Linked DNA regions of Homo sapiens. The protein of the gene in region 1 purifies or fractionates together with the protein of each later gene. This does not show direct contact. Each region holds a gene or a part of one and is shown in the gene's direction. Other genes may lie near its edges. The genes, in order: SMPD3, PPP3CA and SOAT1.

Region 1 (3,655 bases):
AGAGGCTCAGAGTGAGTGTGAGCATTGTCAGGTAAAATCACAAATCTTTCTATTGGGGGGCTCCCTCCTACCTTCAGAGTGTTGAGTTGATGTTCTTGTCTGAAGTTCTTTCAAGCTAGTTCAAGCCATGGAATTGCTGCTGTCTTCACCTCTATGGAAATGTTTAAAGAGGGCTTGAAGGTCTTTGTTCAAGTTTCTGACCAGTGGAAGGTGGGCATCAAACCCATTTATAAGGACAATGCATGGAAAACACTTATCAAGGCCAAAGAGATTTAGGCATCTCCTGTCTCTACCTCTACCTCTACTACTCTTTTCTCCTCTTTCCCTGTTCCACATTTATCCTCTTCTTTCTGTCATTATTAAATTAGTCAATAACATTTTTCAAAGGCAAGCCCTCTTTTCCTCAAAAACAATGTAGCCCAGAAAATGAAGGCTTCTGGAGGCTATTACCAAATGCAAAAAGCTGCAAATACGGCTTTCCAGGCCTAATGACAGAAGTGGGGGAGAGAGATAAGACATGCTCAGTCCTAAATACCCATCTGGTGACATGTGTCTCTTCTCCTGGAGTTACTCTGAAGGAATTTCTTGCAGTCACAAAATCCTAAGAGCTCTGCAGCTCTGCAAAGGAAAGAAGGTATTTTAATACCTGGTATTGTTCTTACTTTGGCATCCATGTGATTTGCATTGAACTATGTGACTCAGTATCATAAAGTAAAAATAGGACTTAATCTCTTCCTTGCCTGTTTGGAAGGTGACTGCATATGGTGTGTTGTATTCTGCATTGGAGAGTGAAAAGCTAAATTGCCTCATAAATTGAACCACCTGCTTATCCTGATTAGAATGGTGCTTAACATCACCTACAGGCAATAACGTTATTTTATGTTTCTTTTAATTTATACCTGTATCTTTGTCTTGTAAAACATTTCCTCATGCTCATACATTATTACTTTCACTTGAAGTTAATCAAGAATGTTTAATCCTTGTACTGAAGCCAAACAAATTAAATATCAGCAGATTCAGGAAGATGTGGGTGGTGTTTCTGTTCTTTTTGGGCTCAAAAAAAATTCTTGGAGTTCATAGAAAAGAAGGAAAAGGCCCTAAGATTTGGTAAATCTTGTGAGCAGTTCTGAGAGGCTCCTTAGAAATTTCCAGAAGGGCTGGTCATGTTGAAGAATCTGAACACGCATGCAAGTGGCAGCATGCATGCTGGAAATGAGACTGCAGCCCTGGTATTCCTAAATCACTGCACTAATGCAGCTTTTCTCGGAAAATTTCCCAAGACCCTCCTGCTCCCTGGGGCAGCCAGCTGGATCACTGTGGAGGAGAGCTGTCCAAGGTTCTGGAGTGCTGGCCTCACCCACCTGGTGGGAAGGGAGGACTTCTGGGTGTGGACCAGAAGCAAGAGCTGAGGGCCATGGCCTCCAAGAGGATTTCCCCAAAGCTGATTACAGAATGGAATAGGAGGAAACAGAGCTGTGGTGGATATTACTGCATTACTTCGAACAAACTCATCAGCAATCCCTGTTTAAAGAATTATGAGCTAATAAGAGGAAACATTTTCTGACTCAGGCTCTTCACATGTAAGAATGTATTTAATCCTCACAGTCCTGTGAGGTAGGTGGTGGCATAATTCCCACTTTCAAGGTGAGGAAACCAAGCTTTGAGGGCTTTCCCAAGGTTACACAGAAGGGGAAGAATTTAGGTTCCATCCTGGATCTCAAACTCTGGAAGTTCCTCCTTACCACTGTTTTTTCCCTATTGCTATTACAGAAATAAAACTGAACTATTGGATTATTCTATGTAAGTTTATAATCAAATGCCAGAGGAATAGGATTGCGGACCCACTAGGATTTAGACACAAATCAGTCTTTCCAAGTTCAGCAAGGATAGTGCCACCTACTTTATATCTTATCCAGCTTTGTTAACTGAACTTGGTTACCAAAGAATGGGGAAAGGGTAGTATAATGACCTTCATGACCAGTAGCCCAGGGGTTTCTTTCCACTGTGGAAAATTTTCACAGGAAGCCAAGCGTAGATGGCAACAAAGTGTTGTCATTGTTTTTCGTTTTTAAGAAAGGAAGGAAAAAAAACATGAGGAAGCTGTTATTTGACAAAGAGTACACATACAGCCAAAGAAATAGAGCTTATCTTTATTTCCTAGCAGCCTATTCCAAAGCTGAAGACACTCAGATATTGTTAAGAGATTCCTTCCACCTATTTGCACTCTCAGATTTTCATAGCAAAGCCTCTAACACCTAAATAAAATTTTCACTGTGTGGGCCTCAGCCAATCTCAGGAAAGCATCACATTCCTGTCCTTATGCCACCCAACCAAAGCTCTACCTCCATATGTGGCTGCAAGACTCCAGAAGGTGGGCAGGTTTGGGGTTTGGTGAATTTCAGACCACAAGTCTTGTCCTCCTAAAGTGGCAGTTCCAACTGCTCCAATCTTGCAACACACACAGGGGCCGGTTTCTGAGAACTCCCCATTCGATTTGGATGTCTAAAGAGGGTAGAAAGGAATGAACTTATGTTTTTTCTCCTCTCCCTGGGCCTCAGTCTGTACAACACTCAGATAAGGGGTTAGACTTTTAAGAAAAATTCTTCATATCAAGCTGAGTCTCCATTCCATTTTGAGTGATTCCTTCCCCTTCCAAGCTGGGGCTTCGCAGAGCTCTGATGAAAGGAGCAAAGGCTGCTACTGCTTTTCCCGAGGGCGCTTGGAAGCCAAGGACCCGGCACCCCATCTGGGTCTGCTCTGACTCATATGACTGCAGACAGATTTGATTGTTTTCTTATTTAGAGTCATTAATTAACTCTCCTCAGCATCAGAACAGCGTGTAATAAGAAGGAGGCCATTTGTGGGGGTCTCTAGGCAGCCACACCTAGGGCTGAGTACCACCTCCTTTGCACACAGGATCAGGAAATGGTTTCTAATCCTGGCTATAACCCTTTAGAAAGCTTAGATTGTTAAGATTTTAGGCCAATATGAGAAAGTGCAATTAATTGCTAAGGCTGTTGTGATCATTCTGGCAAGAACTGGGAGGCCCAGGAGTCCCTCAAAGGAGGACTGGATTTCCATTCATTCAACAGACATTTCTTGTGCCTACAAAAATGTGTCAGCCACAGCGCTGGGCACGGGGAACACAACCACAATGTGGGATAAGTCCTTTCTTATAGAAATCTTGAACGGAACAAGGAAACAGACACAGAAACCCTGAAATAATGTGTGCTGTAAGCAGAAAGAGCTTTAGAAATGGAAAGGATATTAATAATCATAAACCATCATGTCTTTTTAACATGAGGAAAGACAGCGAGGGAAGTTGAGGGCTGCTCTGGCCACAGCCCTGGTTAGTGGTTCTAAGATGGGGCTTAGAACCCAGATTTTTTAATGCCTAAAGCATGTTCTTTCCACTGTCCTAAACTGTTGCTCTGTTCATTTAATTACCCAAAGGATACATTTCCGTTAACATAGGCTTCTTTGATCCAATACCAATGCAAAACCCAAATTTTAAGTTGAAATAGCCCAGGCACGGTTGCTCATGCCTATAATCCCAACACTTTGGGAGGCTGAGGCAGGAGGCTTGCTTGAGGCCAAGAGTTCAAGACTAGCCTGGGTAACATAGTGAGACCCCGTCTCTATAAAAAATAAAAAC
Region 2 (3,655 bases), on another chromosome or scaffold:
TTGCAAGACACTATTTCACACTTCTATAGAGCATAGAGCATTGGTCTTTGCTCTATATTTAAAGTACAGTAGAGATGTGATGCTGGTTCAGTATAAAATTGTTTCTTTCTGGGCCAAGCATGGTGCCTCACGCCTGTAATCCCAGCACTTTGGGAGGCCGAGGCAAGTGGATCATGAGGTCAGGAGTTCGAGACCGGCTTGACCAACATGTTGAAACCCCATCTCTACTGAAAATACAAAAATTAGCCAGGCATGGTGGCGCGCGCCTGTAATCCCAGCTACTCAGGAGTCTGAGGCAGGAGAATTTCTTGAACCTGGGAGGTGGAGGTTGCTGTGAGCCGAGATCGTGCCACTGCACTCCAGCCTGAGTGACACAGGGAGACTCCGTCTCAAAAACAGAAATGTTTCTTTCTGCATGAATATAACTAGCTCATTCTGTAATCTGATGGATTTTTTTTAAGTAAATAAACTTCACATCGTAAATTAAGTAGATTTTTTAAAATATCACCTAATATCCCTAGGACTTACTTCCCAGGATATTTTAGATATTATATTCAATTTTCATACATATCATTAAGCTCTGCACATGGCCAGAAAATGATTTTTAAGTTTTTATCTTGCCATATATCAAGTTTTTTTGTATTTGTTTATTTTTACTGTCAATTATATTAACTTTTAGAATGCACTGTATACTTTTTCCAGAATAAATGTTATATTCTGGTAGCTTTGCAGACCTTTAGTTGGGGATTCATATTAATCAGAAACTTTCCCCTCCTCTACTGTCCTACCCTTAATAAGTTATTGTTTTTCAGAAAGAAGTTCTGTATTTTTAGGGACAAGTATTATTTTTCTTGAATGTATTGTTCCAAGAGCATAAATTATTTAAATCTCTTAAACAAGTTTAAGTTTGCAATGAATATTTTGTGGCTAACATAATGGTTGAAATGTAGTCTTGTTTTATTGAAGTTTTTCATTGGGTATTGAAAACATAAAATATTGCCTCATTCTCTATAGATACTAATAAAAAGTAGTGTGCAACAAAACCATTACTTACATCTTGTATGTCCCAGAAAAAAAAAATAGACAATTTGATTAGTTGTAAGCAAAATATGTTCACTTGTCTTCATTGGATTTTTAAAAATATCAATATGAAGAATATCAATTCTTAATAGATTTTCAAAGCTATTGCATGCTTTTATTCAAGAGCCTTTATAATATCTGCTGATTCACCAAAGATCCTTTAATTGCAGTTAAATCAGGATAAACTAAAGTGTTTAAAATTGATCGTGATATGTTATTTCCAGTGATGATATTTCTAATATGCCTTCTAAATGCACCTTTTAAAATTGAAATGTGACTTCACTAAACATTTATAGCTGGAAAATTGATTTCATATGAAGGCTTCAGGTAAAATTATAAAGCTTAGAACTGTGAACTGAAGAATGACCCGCTAAAGTTGAGTTTATTTTACTGCTTATCATTACTCATATTTGTACCCACTAAGATCAACTACAGGAGGCTTGTAGTTTATCATTAGAAACCTAGATAGCCCATAATGAAATAGTATCCAAAATATCATATAGCAAGTGGCTACTTTTAAAGTAAAAGCCATCTTTTCTCAAAATCATGTTCTTAAATATAAAAAAATAACATAAGCATGAAAACTAGGAGTTGTTTTCCATCCAAACTTCTAAATCACAGTTTAATAGAGGCAGTAATAGGAATTTTCCCAAAGAAAGTAATTCTCAATAAATGAAACAGGGGTAGAGTCATAATAACTGGTCATGAAAAAAACATTTGGATAGATAAAGTAAGTAAGGAGAGAAGGATAAAATGTAGAATAGGAGAAATGAGAAACTGCGAAATCTAGAGATAATAGAGGCAAGAGGAAGGTAAAGGGTTAGATGAAGATAGATACTAAATGATCTCATCAGAAGGAAGCTGGAAAGAAAATTGGAGAGAGATGAAGGATAGGAAAACGAGTAGGAAGAAGGACAGGAAGAGAGAGAGAGGTAGAGGACATTTCACCCTGAGCTGTAGCTGGGGAGAAGAGGATGGGTTCTGCACAGTGCTTGTTTCTTGTATTGTCAGAATTCTAAGTTTCCAAAGATTAGTATTTTGCTCTCTGTCTTCTATTTTTCTTAGTTAGACCGATTCAAAGAACCACCTGCATATGGACCTATGTGTGATATCCTGTGGTCAGACCCCCTGGAAGATTTTGGAAATGAGAAGACTCAGGAACATTTCACTCACAACACAGTCAGGGGGTGTTCATACTTCTACAGGTAAGAATAGAGAACTTGCTCTCTGGAACACGTTTGCATCATAATGCTAGGATTTATCAGTCCATGTGTTTGATTTATTTATAATGTTTGTATTACTTCTTTAATATAAATGAAAGGCTCACTAGCATTTATAAAATGAAAATATAAATAAATGAATAAGTGAGTAAATAAATGTGAAATAGATATGTATACATATACAGGTGTACCTTGGGGATGTTAAGGGTTTGATTCTAGACCACCACAATAAAGCAAATATTGCAATAAAGCAAGTCATTATTTTTTTGGTTTCCCAGTGCATATAGAAGTTATGTTTACACTATACTGTAGTCTATTAAGTGTACAATAGCATTGTATCTAAAAAAAAAAAAACAAATGTACATACCTTAATCAGAAAATACTTCATTGCTAAACAATGCTCATGATCATCTGAGCCTTCAGCTAGTCATAATCTTTTTGCTGGTGGAGGATCTTGCCTCGATGTTGATGGTTACTGACTAATCAGGGTGGTAGTTTCTTTCTCAAAAGAAGACATTTATGTGGCCAAAAAACAATGAAAAAATGCTCATCATCACTGGTCATTAGAGAAATGCAAATCAAAACCACAATAAGATACCATCTCATGCCAGTTAGAATGGCGATCATTAAAAAGTCAGGAAATGGATGCTGGAGAGGATGTGGAGAAATAGGAACGCTTTTACGCTGTTGGTGGGAGTGTAAATTAGTTCAACCATTGTGGAAGACAGTGTGGCGATTGCTCAAGGATCTAGAACCAGAAATACCATTTGACCCAGCAATCCCATTACTGGGTATATACCCAAAGGATTATATATCATTCTACTATAAAGACACATGTATATGCATGTTTATTGCAGCACTATTTACAATAGCAAAGACTTGGAACCAACCCAAATGCTCATCAATGATAGACTGGAGAAAGAAAATGTGGTACATATACACCATGGAATACTATGCAGCCATAAAAAAGGATGTGTTCATGTTCTTTGCAGGGACATGGATGAAGCTGGAATCCATAAGAACTATTATTTTTGCCCCAATGCAACAAAGTATCACAAGAACAGAAAACCAAACACCTCATGTTCTCACTCATAAGTGGGAGTTGAACAAAGAGAACATATGGGCACAGGGAAGGGGAACATCACACACCAGGGCCTGTCAGGGGGTGGGGGGCTAGGGGAAGGATATTATTAGTATAAATATCTAATGTAGATGACGGGTTGATGGGTGCAACAAACCGCCAGGGCACATGTATACCTATGTAACAAACCTGCACATTCTGCACATGTACTCCAGAACTTAAAAAAAACTCCAGTATTAAAAAAAAAAAAACTGTACCAAAAAAATCCAACACC
Region 3 (3,655 bases), on another chromosome or scaffold:
AAATTCAGCTAAGGAGAAATCAAGTATGTAATTTCTTTTGTTCATTATTTCTTCCTCCCCTCCCCTCCTCTCCCCCCACCCCATTCCCTTCCCTTCCCTTCCCTTCTTTCCTTCTTTCCTTCCCTCCCTCCCTCTCTCTTTTTCTCTTTCTCTTTCTCTCTCTCTCTCTTTTTCTTTTCTTTTCTTTGTGTAATTTCATTAGTTTAAAGGATTATTGGCTGGATATTTCACCCTTTGTTGTTTTCTGGGATGTCACATTATATAATGTAGAGATTGTGTTTTATTTCAAATATATATTATCCATATTGATTTTGAGGACCACTTCATTGTTTCCTGACTATTCCGGCTTTGCCCTTGAACCTACAATTTTAAAAAATTGATTATCTTTTGCAACTTTGCATTATTTTTATGGAATGTTAATAGCCTCATTACACCTGTGCCTGCCTATTCTTTGCAAATTGTTGCTTCACACTCTAGAAGTTATCTCAGTCACAGGAATAACTTGGTTTAAAGAGATTGGTAATATTCAATTCGTGCAAGAATAAGAAGTCATTCCGGAGATCAGGAAAAAAGAACATGAGCTGATAAGTCATTTTATTCTTCCCTGTTCTGTGCTTCCTTATATTCCCCCCTGTATTTTTGCTGTGAAAAATCAAAGAGCCTTTGCTCTAACTATAGTTTTCCTTTTCTAGGCACTGTTCCAATACCTACAGTCAACCAGTATTTGTACTTCTTATTTGCTCCTACCCTTATCTACCGTGACAGCTATCCCAGGTAATGGTACTGTGAACCAGAAATGTGGTAAACACCAAAAGTGTGGCATGAGTGAGGTGGGATAGGTAAACAGGGGCCAGTTCATGTAGGGACATAGAAAATATAGAATGAGTTTTCATTTTCTGTCTGACCTGAGAAGCCTCAAATGGTGAGTAGGGAAGTCTAATTTGATTATAGTAATTCTTGACAGAATTATAAAGTATTTCATATGGTCATAAATGATGTTCTGAATTAATTAATTTTTATTTATTTTTATTATTTTTAATTTATTTTTTATTAATTAATTAATTTTAGTTTTTTCTGAGATGGGAGTCTTGCTCTGTCACCCAGGAGTGCAGTGGTGCTATGTCGGCTCCCTGCAACCTCTGCCTCCTGGGTTCAAGTGATTCTCCTGCCTCAGCATCCCAAGTAGCTGGCATTACAGGTGTGTGCCACCACGCCCGGTTGGTTTTTTTGTATTTTTATTAGAGACGGGGTTTCACCATATTGGCCAGGCTGGTCTCGAACTCCTGGTCACTGCCTTCCAAAGTGCTTGGATTACAGGTGTGAGCCACCGCGCCTGACCAAAAAACATTAATTGTGAGGGTCTTTATTCAAGTTCAATTACTTTATTTAGAAACCTTATTTTTGTTTCTTTCTTTTTCAGGAATCCCACTGTAAGATGGGGTTATGTCGCTATGAAGTTTGCACAGGTAAGTTTTTGTAACTGCCTAAGGTATGTTGATTAGGGGATGGGGATTCATATTTATGATAATAATATAATCTAGTTAAATCTAATTGGGAGCTAAGAATGCTTTCTGTTGACATTATGCAGTCTTTTAAACTATTTCCAGTACGGTAAATGGTGTTTGTTTTGCCAACATCAAAAGTAATTTTCTTTAATAAAAGAATATATTAGGCTGGGCGCAGTGGCTTGCGCCTGTAATCCCAGCACTTTGGGAGGCCTAGGTGGGCAGATCGCGAGGTCAGGAGTTCAAGACCAGCCTGGCCAACATGGTGAAACCCCATCTCTACTAAAAATACAAAAATTAGCCTGGCGTGGAGGCACGTACCTGTAATCTCAGCTACTCAGGAGGCTGAGGCAGGAGAATTGCTTGAACCTGGGATATGGAGGTTACAGTGAGCTGAGATCACTCCTCTGCACTCCAGCCTGGGCGACAGAGCAAGACTCCATCTAAAAAAAAAAAGAATGTATTATTTATAAAGTAATTCTAATTGGTTATTTCAGTAAGCATTAATTTCCCCCTTCCTTCCTGTTTTTGGGGGAGGTATATATGTATGTGGGTATAGTCTGACTCTTACCCATTCCTCCTCCCACCTCCATCAGAATCATTAATCCTGGAAGATCCCATTTTAAATTAGTGTCTCAATCAAATGCCCATTTATGAAGTAAGTTCTTTCATTAAGGGGTTTTTTTTTTTTTTTTTTTTTTTTTTTTTTTTTTTTTTTGAGAAGGAGTCCTGCTCTGTTACCGATGCTGGAGTGCAGTGATGCAGTCTTGGCTCACTGCAACCTCTACCTCCTGTGTTCAAACGATTCTCCTGCATCAGCCTCCTGAGTAGCTGGGATTACAGGTGCCCACCACTGCGCCTGGCTAATTTTTGTATTTTTAGTACAGATGGGGTTTCACCATGTTGGCCAGGCTGGTCTCGAACTCTGACCTCAAGTCATCCACCCGCCTCAGCCTCCCAAAGTGCTGGGATTACAAGCGTGAGCCACTGTGCCCGGCCATGTTACGGGTTTTAAGCAGCAGGAAAACAGGTTCCAAGAGTAAGCTCTTCTAAAAATATCATTTGGTAAAGGGTTAGGAAAAGTGATGGTAGAAACTAGGCTTGAGTAATCTCCCTGAAGGATTATAGCAGTCTTCTATACTAGTGTTAAATGGAATACATATGCGAACATTACTGTAAGGGTCACATCTGTACTTTCTTTTGGAGAGAAAAAAATCGCCTTCCATCTTATTAAGCCATCGTTATTATAATTCTGTCTCTGTTATGTTCCAGGTCTTTGGTTGCTTTTTCTATGTGTACTACATCTTTGAAAGGCTTTGTGCCCCCTTGTTTCGGAATATCAAACAGGAGCCCTTCAGCGCTCGTGTTCTGGTCCTATGTGTATTTAACTCCATCTTGCCAGGTAACATGGGTACTTGTTAATTTGGTCATGCATAAATTCACGAGGTAAATAGAAAGCTATTGCCTATGAGCACCTTTGCTTTGCCTACTTTTTCATCTAAACTTCTATACATCTATGCCCATCTTGACCTCTTTTGCATCTACTTTATAAATGAAGTATCCTTCATCCAGTCTCAGGTCAGTCTTTCATCTTATGGCTTTCACTCAAGTTGTGCCTTTCTCTGACAGTGGACAGTCCACATTCATGCTGTGTCTTCCTGTTCGCTATTAAGTTCATTGTAATCTTGCTCCTGATTCCACCAAGCCACTTAAATGCCCCTTGTTGAAATTACTAGTAACTTGTAGAAATTACTTGTAGAAATTACTAGTAATCCATATTCTAATCCAGTGGATGGATTAAGATGTACTTTACCCCTTATCCAAGTTGACCTCCATGAAGCATTGGGTGCTGCTGACCACATTTTTAAATCTCTCTTGTCACTGTTTTCTTGCCTTTTTTTTTTTTGAAATCGGGTCTCTCTTTGTCACCCAGTCTGAATGCAGTGGTGTCATCATGGCTTACTAGCCTCGACCTCTGGGGCTCGAGTGATCCTCTCGCCTCAGTAGCTGGGACTACAGGTGCATGCCACCATGCCTGGCTAAGTTTTTATTTTTTGGAGAGACGGGGTCTCCCTATGTTGCCCAGGCCATTCTCAAACTCCTGGGCTCAAGTTATCCTCCTGTCTCAGCCTCTCAAAGTGCTGGGGTTA

The links.
Region 2: the proteins of SMPD3 (region 1) and PPP3CA purify together in Homo sapiens (affinity purification with mass spectrometry; 2 studies listed by BioGRID and IntAct, with this or other methods). This does not show direct contact.
Region 3: the proteins of SMPD3 (region 1) and SOAT1 purify together in Homo sapiens (affinity purification with mass spectrometry; one large-scale study listed by BioGRID and IntAct). This does not show direct contact.

The regions. Positions count from the first base shown.
Region 1 is NC_000016.10:68,441,934-68,445,588, reverse strand, and holds part of SMPD3 (sphingomyelin phosphodiesterase 3), read left to right. Parts: intron 1-3,655. UniProt on the Homo sapiens protein: Catalyzes the hydrolysis of sphingomyelin to form ceramide and phosphocholine. Ceramide mediates numerous cellular functions, such as apoptosis and growth arrest, and is capable of regulating these 2 cellular events independently.
Region 2 is NC_000004.12:101,092,406-101,096,060, reverse strand, and holds part of PPP3CA (protein phosphatase 3 catalytic subunit alpha), read left to right. Parts: intron 1-2,145; coding exon 2,146-2,285; intron 2,286-3,655. UniProt on the Homo sapiens protein: Calcium-dependent, calmodulin-stimulated protein phosphatase which plays an essential role in the transduction of intracellular Ca(2+)-mediated signals. Many of the substrates contain a PxIxIT motif and/or a LxVP motif.
Region 3 is NC_000001.11:179,342,170-179,345,824, forward strand, and holds part of SOAT1 (sterol O-acyltransferase 1), read left to right. Parts: coding exon 1-23; intron 24-692; coding exon 693-774; intron 775-1,420; coding exon 1,421-1,466; intron 1,467-2,777; coding exon 2,778-2,907; intron 2,908-3,655.